2 separate regions of the Homo sapiens genome follow, and region 1 is linked to region 2. Evidence: fine-mapped expression QTL. A gene starts in region 2. The other region holds a variant in brackets. All regions are shown on one strand. Distances are from middle to middle.

Region 1 (5,386 bases), 82 kb after region 2:
TGAGATTGAATTCTGCAGATTAAGTTTGTTGTTATGTTTGCCTCCACCACCTAGACCTAAGGGTGTTTGCATATTTTTAAAATCTATGTTTTCATTTACTTTTTGGTTGTCCTTACGAGATTTCTGAGACTCACCTAAAGTTAGCTAGACCTTTATTTTCTACAGTCTGATTTTTTAACTATATGAGTGGTTTGAGATATTTTTTTAAATCAAAACAAAAGGAGAAAAATCTTCTTGTTTGAAATGTAAGACTTCGTAATAAAACAGGAGTTTATGAAGAGCACATAGTTTCATCCTATGAATAGCAACTTTGAAGATACATTCTTAAAATATGAAATTGTAGATTTTAATTGGTTGATTTTGTGTTAACCAGACAATTACCAATCTGTTTATTCGTGTTTCCTTCCTAATGAGAGAAAATTCCAGTTATATTGCTATATTGTATAATAACATTCCTAGGTCAAGTCAAAGAGTTTAGAATTATCCTTAAATATACTATGTAGTTTAACTTAAAATACAGTCATAAAAGTATTCTCTACTACTAATTTGTTTCTGTTCTTTTCAGACTACAAGATAAAGTTCGAGAAACTATTGAAGCATTGAGAATGGCTGGTATCAAAGTATGGGTACTTACTGGGGATAAACATGAAACAGCTGTTAGTGTGAGTTTATCATGTGGCCATTTTCATAGAACCATGAACATCCTTGAACTTATAAACCAGAAATCAGACAGCGAGTGTGCTGAACAATTGAGGCAGCTTGCCAGAAGGTAAGAATATAGGAACCTGTATCATACCTTTCAGGGGTTAGCAAACTATGGTTCCCTGGGCCCGATGATATAGCCCACTGTCACTGCCTGTTTTTTACAGCCTATCAGCTAAAAGTAGTTTTTACATTTTTTGATAGATGAAATCCAAAGAAGAAGAATATTTCATGAAGTGAAAAGTATATGAAATTCAAATTCCAGTGTCTATAAAGTTTGATTGGAACACAATCACATTCATTTGTTTACATATTACCAATGAGTGCTTTTACACTACAGCATCAGAATTGAGTAGTTGCAGCAGAGACTTTACAAAATACTCTCTCTTCAGCTTTACACTGCTGTTTGATACTCTACAAATCACAGTGAGATACATATAATGTGATAGTGTTTGGAGTGCCATGCATAGCACCATGTTGCGACATTTTACTGTTTTTTATTAGTATATGGCCATCATGTCAAAACAAGAAAAGAAAAGTGGACTTTTAACATTACGATTTTTTTTGAAGCACTGTGGATAGGGGATTATTTTATTTTTGAGTTAGATGGCAAAGCATTGTTTATTATGCATTGATATGTTAGCTGTGCTACCTGTTTGAAAAGACATTTTCAAAGATGAATTATAAATCTCATTACATACAGTTCTATCGTATGGAAATGTAAAAATCTCGTTACAGATGGACATTAACAGATGAACATTTGCAATGTTAACTTTGAACCCCAATTAAACAAAGTACTATCCCTTGCCCAAAAGAAGTATTTTCATTCTTCTCATTAGTAAACCTCTCTTATTTAAAAAATTATACTCAATGATTACTACATTTTTATCTTAGTGAAAATTTTGTTGAGATTTTTTCCTCTCATTCTGTAACTACCTATATCCTCAATTTTGCCTCTTGGCCCACAAAACCTAAAATTGAAATATTTACTCTCTGGCCCGTAACAGAAAACATTTGCCAACCCCTGATCTAGTTTGCATGACCAAACTGGGAAATTAAGCTGCATTTAATTGTTCAAGATTATTTCATAAGAATTTATACTCTAAATTCTGTCTTTTTTGTAAATCTATCTTTTATAGGCATATCAAATTTTTGCCCTGTATGGGGGCAAATGATGCCCCATTTAACACAGTCTAATTTTTCACAGTAAACTAGGAAGGGCTTCATTTGACCATCAGAGCTGCTTGTATGTAAGCATATTAGGTCTCCTGCAGGTTTCTGTTGTTTGC[T/C]GTCTTGTGATACTAATCCAGAAAAATAAATACCAAGAGACAAATACCATAGTTGTTAATATACATTCAGTGTTTTCTATTTATATTTTTTATGCAGGCATTTATGTGATACCAAGTCTGGATTTCATCTTTTTAAAACCTATTTAAGAGATATTTTAAAAAGACCATGCAGGGGATTTTTTGTTGTTGTTGTTTTGTTGTTGTTGTTGTTTGTTTGTTTTTTGAGACAGAGTTTCACTCTTGTTGCCCAGGCTGGAGTGCAATGACGCACTCGGTTCACCACAACCTCCGCCTTCCGGGTTCAAGTGATTCTCCTGCCTCAGCCTCCTGCGTAGCTGGGATTACAGGCATGCACCACCGTGCCCAGCTAATTTTGTATTTTTAGTAAAGACAGGGTTTCTCTGCATTGGTCAGGCTGGTCTCGAACACCTGACCTCAGGTGATCTGCCTGCCTTGGCCTCCCAAAGTGCTGGGATTATAGGTGTGAGCCACCGCACCCGGCCCATATAGGGTCTTCTTAAAATATCTCTTAAATAGGGTCACACTGGATCTTTGAGTGCAAAAAGACAATTAATTTAGGTAATTATACTACAATTTGGGGACAGTGTCAACAACATTGTGGCTATTTAAACGTTTAAATACTGCAATATCATGAACTCCCTAAAACACAGAAATTAATTGCTCAGAATCATTTACTTTATATATGCCTTTTTAAATATTTTTTTCTGGCTGGGCACAGTAGCTCATGCCTGTAATCCCAACACCCTGGGAGGCTGAGGTGGATCGCTTGAGCCCAGGAGTTTGAGATCAGCCTGGTCAATGTAATGAGACCCTGTCCCCACAAGAAATTTAAAAATTATCCAGGTGTGGGGGTGTGTACCTGTAGTCCCAGTTACTCCGAAAGCTGAGACAAGAGGATCACTTGAGCCCAGAAGTTCAAGGCTACAGTGAACTGTGCTCTTGCCTAAAAAATAAAAATAATTTTAAAAAATATTTTTCTGATTATAAAAATAATAAATGTCTACTTGAAAAATACTGAAAATTGTAAAGCTTATGCAGTGGTTAATAACAAAGTCATCAGAAGATTATTATTTGTAATTTAGGCTATTTTCTTTAAGTCTTCTGTATATAGGTGGTTTTAATGAATATGCTAATCATTAGTATTTGTTTTCTTTTCTGTACAAAAGCTGTATTATAAAACGTAGAGTACACTCTTAAAGTGAATTTTAGGCTTGCCGTCTTAGTCTGTTTGTGCTGCTGTAACAAAATACCTGAGACTAGGTAATTTATAAAGAACAGAAATTTATTTTTCACAATTCTGGAGGCTGGGAAGTTGAAGATCAAGGCACCAGCAAGTTGTATAGTGAGGGCTGCTCCCTGTTCCAAAATGGTGCCTTATTGCTGCATCCTTCTGAAGGGAGGATTACTGTGTCCACACATGGTGGAAGGGACGAAAGGCAAGAGAGGGCAAATCTCTGAAGCCTCTTTTATCAGAGCATTAATCCATTCATGAAGGCAAAGCCATTATGACTTAATCACTTCCGAAAAGGCCCCACTTCATAACAATGGGGGTTAACTTTCCACATTAATTTTGGAAGGGATTCGACATTCAAACCATAGCACTTTCTATGTGAAATTTATGTTATATTTTAGAGGTATCTTTTGATGGAATATATTTTATGAGATAACCATAGAAGTCAATAGGCCCATTCATTCACAGACTTTCAGGAAGTATCCTAAATCTTGATAAAAATCTGTCGCACAAAGAATTTCATGCCTTTGAAAGCTTTAGTATATATATCCATTCCTTCACAAAGATATATTGTCACCTGTCTAGGCATTTGGAACAGAGACATAAGGTGTGTTGTTTATGCCTTGGATACTTGGTGTAGGGAAAACAGAAAAGTAAATACACTGTCATAGTCCTATCCCTACAGAACTGTATCTGAGGCAAGAACAGAAGCTCTGGAAGGACAGAAGAGAGAAGCCTAGCCTAGACCAGGGGTACCAGGGAGAGCTCTGAACAACCAATGACTGTGTTGCCTCCTGTGGGGCGAAATGTTCACTGGACAGAGAGTGACACTAAGAAGCAAACGGGAGGCTGGGCACAGTGGCTCATAATCCTGACTTACAGGCACAGTGGCCAATAATCCCAGCACTTTGGGAGGCCAAGGAAGGCAGATCACTTGAGTCTAGAAGTTCAAGACCAGCCTGGGCAACATAGTGAAACCCCGTCTCTACAAACAATACAAAAATTAGACGTGTGTGGTGACACATACCTGCAGTCCCAGCGTCTTGGGAGGCTGAGGTGGGAGGATGTATTGAATCAGGGAGGTTAAGGCTGTGGTGAGTTGTGATCACACCACTGCACTCCAGCCTGGGTGACAGAGTGAGTTGCTGTGTCAGAAAAATAAAGGCAGCAAAGGGGGCAGTGCGTGCAGATTCCCAGAGCTGAGAGAGAGGAGGGCATATTCAAGGAAATAATTATAAAGTATGGCCAGGGAGTGGTATAGATGGGACAGGGTATGAAGAGTAGTGATGCATGAGGGCTACAGAGATGAGTAAATGCTACCTACGTGCCAGAGATGTAGGTGCTTTTCCATATTTCTTAAATATTATCCCATGGATTGTAAGATCATAATGTGATTCATGAAGCCTGTCCAGAGGAAAACCTAATTTCATGTGCCTTGGGAACTTTTCCTAGGAAAACTGATCTGCTCTGTCCCACTCTTGACTGCTAGCATTTCTGAGGCCTGTTCCTCAGGTAGTGCTTTGGACAGGCTGAAGACATTGGAGGCAGCACAAGTTGCCAAATAAAGTTTGGCCAATAGGGAAGAAAAATTGTCTATATAGGTGTTGATTTCAGATATTGGAGAGTTAGTAGTAATGAGAAAAATACATTTTATAAAACTTTATGGTATAAAGTGAATTGCTTACCACTTATAGCTACAGTACAACACAACAGTGATTAGGCATACTATGAAAGACATTGCTTTAACTTACGAAAGTTTCTTATAAGACTAAAATCTATCAATATATGTTTAGCTTTTATAGTGTGCTCATTTAATAGTCTTCTCACTTCTTATTTTTAAGTGGAGGGATAGTTCTCAGCAGAGTCTGATATTCTGTGAACCTTCGGTATTTTCTTGTGGTGTATATAGCACAGTGCTACACTGAGTACTGGCTTTCAGCAACATAAAGGAGCTTACATCAAAATGTAAATCTAGGTATACTTCCTTCATCAAGAAAGTATTATTACCAAAGGAGAATTGTGGGGGGAAGCAGTTTAATAAAATAGTGTGCTTAGTGATTTTGTTGATTTACATTCTGGTGTAGGCTCCTTATCTCTTCCTGGCAACAAATAGTTTGCCCACTTTCCAGCAGTGAGACTGTAC
Region 2 (5,386 bases):
GAGATTACTTCTTACCATATTCCACCAGAGCACTAGGAATCAAGCCCTTCCTTCTCCCAACTTCTTCCTTTTGAAATTTGGGGCACAATTAAATAATGATACACAAAGTATTCTCCAGATCGCTATTTCTTATGTTATCTTGAAAAATTTTAGCGGCATATAAATAAAAATTTCCAGGCCTAATTTGTAATCAAACCATTTGCAGATGAATAAAAGTAGGCATGGCCATATTTTTATTTTTGGACGTAGCTTAAGAACATGAGCACTATTGCCTGACAATCCAGAATCTGAATCCTAGCTTTGCCAAATTAGTGTGAGCCTCCATTTCTGCATCTATACAAAACGGGAATAATACCTACTTCAAGGGATTGATTGGAGTTAAATTACAGCATACAAGTAAAGAACTTGATACAGGACCTGGGTGCTCCATGAATGGACACAGTGCTCCATGAATGGCAGTAAGGTTTTGTCACTAAATATATCTCAAAACTTCCTTTTAGGGTCATAAAGTAAGGTTTAGCCACAAGAATAAAAGTAAGATGACTTTTCAAATATCTAGCTATTTTTTGAAGTTGGATGATTTATAATATAAAATTCCATGTTGGTTTTACAGATCATAAATATCCCCAAAGAAAGATTCTATTTGTGGTGCTGGATAAGCATTATATAGTAAGAAATGTCTACTGAAACTAGAAGATTGAGGATGCATATTCAACGACCTGCCTAGTCATGCTAATCTCATTTAGATTTGTTCTTGCTTAATTTTTTTTTTTTTTTTTTTTTTTTGAGACGGAGTCTCCTTCTGCCGCCCAGGCTGGAGTGCAGTGGCGCCATCTCGGCTCACTGCAAGCTCTGCCTCCCGGGTTCACGTCATTCTCCTGCCTCAGCCTCCCGAGTAGCTGGGACTACAGGCGACCGCCACCACGCTCGGCTAATGTTTTGTATTTTTTAGTAGAGATGGGGTTTCGCCATGTTAGCCAGGAAGGTCTCGATCTCCTGACCTCGTGATCCACCCGCCTCGGCCTCCCAAAGTGCTGGGATTACATGGGATTACAGGCGTGAGCCACCGCGCCCGGCCGCTTAATTTTTTTTTTTTTAACCACAAACGTCTGTCGGTGAAGTGTGCTTTAATTCAGCAAAAATACAGCATTCAATACATATACATAACACAATATGTATACGGGGCTGCTTTTAAACAACGCCAAACCTTTAAGTCAAAGCCTTGTTCCAGTTGCTTGTATATTCCTTCTGAGCTTGTCATCCACACACTTTTTTAACCTAGGTCAAGTTACTGCTACGGGTGTTTTTGATTGCAGAAGTTTGGCAGTTAGCAGTAAAGAACTACCTTTTTATACAAATTATCTTCCCCTGAACCTGTCCAATTTAGCACACGGCAAGACAGAATATCTCATCCATTCGCCTAGAAACACGGGTCCAGGCTGTACCAGGCTCAGGGGACTTGCAACGCTTTCGAATCACTTAATGGGTGTGATCAAGATTTCCCTAGCCCCGTCTCAGCCATTTGCTAAAGAAGAGGCCTGACTTGTGTTGAGACGAAAGCTCTTACAGCTTGATGGAACCCAAACTGGGACTTCTGGGGGGATTAACTTTCAGTCACATACGTTCAGGACTGTGCGTATGCGTGTCGGGAGACGCGTGAACCAAAGAAGCCACAGAGCCCGAAAAAGACCTGCAACAGGAGGTAGAGACCGAGGAATCGGCCCCAAGCTGCAGACTCCGGAGATGGCCAGACCCACAGACACGACTTAATCCCACTCCCAGAACGGGGAGGAGGGTGGCAGTGGACAGAAACAGCGTTCGAGAACCCGGCACCTTTCCACGCTCGCTTCTTCCCGGACCCACAACACAGAAACCCCCCAACTCGGAACGGCGGCGGGGCGCGCCAGGCCCCCCTCGGTCCGCGCACCCCCTTTCGTCACGTCCGGGGGCGGGCCGGGGCGCCGGGGGCGGTCCCGGGTGGAGCCGGGGGGCCGGGCGGGGCGGGGCGGGGGTGGGGTTGCGGGGGTGCTTTGGGTGACAACGGTCAATAATGAAGGTGGCTGCGGCGCGGCGGCAGGCTCAGCTGCGCCGGGCGGGGGCGGCGCCGGGGCCGCGCCTGTAGGACTCGGGGCCGACGCCGCGGGATGGGGACGCGGCGCGGGGAGTGAGGCAGTGGCGGCGGCGGCGGTAAGCGGAACTTCGGCCCGAGGGGCTCGCCCGCTCCCGCCTCTGTCTTGTCGGCCTCCACCTGCAGCCCCGCGGCCCCCGCGCCCCGCGGGACCCGGACGGCGACGACGGGGGAATGTGGCGCTGGATCCGGCAGCAGCTGGTAGGTGCCCCCGCCCCTCCACCTCCATTCGTCCGCCCCCGCGGGGCCTCTCGGCCCGGGGTGGCGGGGAAAGGCCGGCGGCGCGGAGCCGGGAGGCCAGGGCGTGGGCGCCCGGCTAGGCCGCAGCGGAGACGGGCGCGGGGCCCAGAGCCGGAGAAGCCCCGTGCGGCTCCCGGGCTCGTCTCGCCTCCAAGCCCGGGCCGCCGAGGCTGGCGCCGAGCGGCCGGAGGCGGCCGCTTCTAGCCGGCGCTTCTCCGTTACTTCTTCCCCCTTGCCGCTCCGGGGCTGCTGTGGCCAGAGGCGGGAGTCCCGAGCGGGGTGGCGGTGCCCCCAGAGGAAACAGGGCGAGGGAGCTGAGCGAGAGTAGGTCTTGGGGAGATGAGAGAGGCGTGCTCTTCCTGCCTCGAACAATTTGGGACGTGTTTGGGTGAAGGGGAAGCGAAGAACCTGTCTTCTGCCCCCACTCGTCACGGACTTCTGGAAGCGTGTCACGATCCAGAGCTGTGTTGATTCCCGAGGAGGAGGCTGTCGTAGGTGTCTAGCCCCCTCAGCGAGAGACGTTTCTCCCCAGGACCTGGAAAGGGGAAAGACTGTGCCAGCTGCCGGTCTAGCTTCGGAAACGATACGTATTGTACGATAGTTACGAACGATACGTACTGTCGTTTCCTTCCTACCTCGTCCTCACCCCACCCCGAGTGAAACTTTTCGAGTGTGAACCTTACTTTTTTCCCGTTCTCCTCAAGGCAGTTTGAACGACACAGGTTTGGAAGGAATAGTTAACTCTCCAGTATTATTGGAACATCTGGACACCACCAACAAAAAATCTTAGAAAAGGGTCATTTAAGGCCTATAAAAAGTGCCACCTTTCCCAGAATTAATTCAGAGAGAAAAATCTTATCTGCCTCCTGGCAGCTACAGCGCAGAAAGTACAGCATTAAGGCAGCTGTGACAATTAGGACAGAAATTGCCCCTGGCTGAAGAAGCCTAACCTTATCTGTGTGATGAGGCCGGTTACTATTTAATTTCTAAATCGCATTAACTTAATGCTTCTACAAGTTGGCGTTTTCATTTACTAATTCTAAAGGCAGTGGTAAAATTTAGTGAAACAGGAACTATTTTTGTGGGACGAAAGCACTGATAACTCTTTTTCCCTTCTGCTCTAGAAAAGCATTTTAACGTTAAGACCAAGAAGTGTGGTGTTTCAGAGCCAGCCTTCTGTTACTTCGTTTTGCAGCGGGCATCATTCTCAAAAAAAAAAAAAAATTATAAATAAGAACTGCCTACCACTCCCTCCTACAAATGTTGGGTCTCTGTTTTTAGCATTGTAAATTCAGATATCCCAGATATATGCTTTATTAGGAAACCAAGCTAATGATGTCATTATAATACCATCTTGTAATACTTTGGCTTTGTTGCAGTAAGCTGTAGCACAGTAATTTTACTCAGAAAGTTAATTATTACAGATTTGATCTTATGCTTTTGATTTGCCAAATCTTCTTGTATAGAGGGCTGATTTACCTGATGGTGTTTTTGTGTGGTAGGAAGATCATTTTAAAGTGGTTCTCTTGAAGCTTTTTTAAAAATGTATTGAGACATCCTTTCTCACTGTTAGGTATTTTTTAGCCAGAATAAAATCCTGGTTGTATAACCATGCTCATCTTCAAGACAGAAAACCTGGTAATGTTTTTTAAAATGGCTTCAAATGAACCCAGCTAAAAGGAAGGGCCGGAAGTTGTGTGTGGTTATTTTACAAGGCAGCCGTCTTAACAGGGATGGTTAACGAGTTGAACAAGTTCCTGTGCATAAAAAATGCTATCTCTGACATTTAGTTGCTCACCTCACTGGTTTTAAGTTATCAGATCCTCTAAGTATGTAATCATACTTGGGCCAATGTAGGACTTTGTGTCTCTGGTTAAGTTTGTATGATCACATAAATTAAACATCAAGGACCCTGGATACAGAGTAATGAAAGTATATTTTGCTATCCCAGTCATAGACAGCTATTCTGATTACTGCACCAGAAATTATTCAACTCAGGTAAAAGCTAGTTTAGATTATACTTCCAGTGGCTTAATGGATTGAATCACCACGACTTTCAGCAATGGGTTTATTTTAAAATGCAGATAACTAGGACAAATTTGGGGAAATTGACAAGCAAATCCTAAGGACAGGTTGGAGTTATAAGCATATTTAATTCGTTATATGAATCCCGATTTTCAACTAATGTCTCACAAAAAAGTCCTTTTATTACAGAAACAATGCCTATGTTCTAGTAATTTCTTTTTAATTAAAAAAAAGTGTGACTCCTTATGACAAAATATTTTCACTACTTGAGAAGATGGAAAAATCAGAAAGTTGACAGAAGCTTGATCTTTTCTATTGGGAAAGTAGGCTGAAAATAAAAAGATTGGAATATCCTTTTTTGTTTTTCTTTTTGGCACACAATGTTAAAGTTACTTGACACTAAGAAAATTCTCTTATGGTGTCTTTGTGGTACAGTTAGTATTATTCAAAGTATACTCATTTTCAGTACCATATTTTATGTATTAACTCATTAGAGATGACAATACCTTGATTATAATTATGGAAATGCCATTAGCTACTCACTGTATTCTAATATTTAGACCTGTACGGTAGCCATTAGCCACAAGTGGCCATTAAAATTAAAATTGGAGCCATATGTGGGTATTAAAATTAAAATTTGAATTCATGTGTCTATTGGCTGCCATTGGCTGCCATATTGGACAGTTCATATTTTCATTATCACAGAAAATTCTATTGGACAGCACCAATTTAGACTTTTAAATGAAAGTCTGTGTCAGTACATATTTGAATGTAATACTACATTTTTAAAGCACTTGCTGTGTGCTGGTATTAACAGATGCTGAATACCAGGGATACAAATGTTGGTCAGGGTCACACATACTCTACATAAGTAGACATTGGATACATGTTGCTGAACAAATAATTAATAGATGAGGAAAGAAAGAATGAATCTGTAGTGTTGTTTCTGTGTTTAGAGACAAAAATGACCAAATTTAAGATTGACTAGCCCAG

The links. PIP is the estimated chance that this variant, and not a neighbour inherited with it, causes the effect.
Region 1: its variant is fine-mapped to the expression of ATP11B in whole blood (INTERVAL, PIP above 0.99).

Annotation. Positions count from the first base shown.
Region 1 is chr3:182,873,247-182,878,632 of GRCh38, forward strand. ATP11B (ATPase phospholipid transporting 11B (putative)) reads left to right here. Exons shown (of 30, transcript NM_014616.3): 19 at 566-769. Among named protein-coding and RNA genes, the nearest start is that of ATP11B, 82 kb to the left of the region's middle. The variant T/C (reference allele first, on the strand shown) is at 1,992.
Region 2 is chr3:182,791,458-182,796,843 of GRCh38, forward strand. It overlaps ATP11B (ATPase phospholipid transporting 11B (putative)), which reads left to right and starts at 2,047. Exons shown (of 30, transcript NM_014616.3): 1 at 2,047-2,329. The coding sequence starts at 2,303. It overlaps ATP11B-DT (ATP11B divergent transcript), which reads right to left and starts at 1,907. Exons shown (of 3, transcript NR_187316.1): 1 at 1,623-1,907. RefSeq lists a silencer at 1,882-2,631.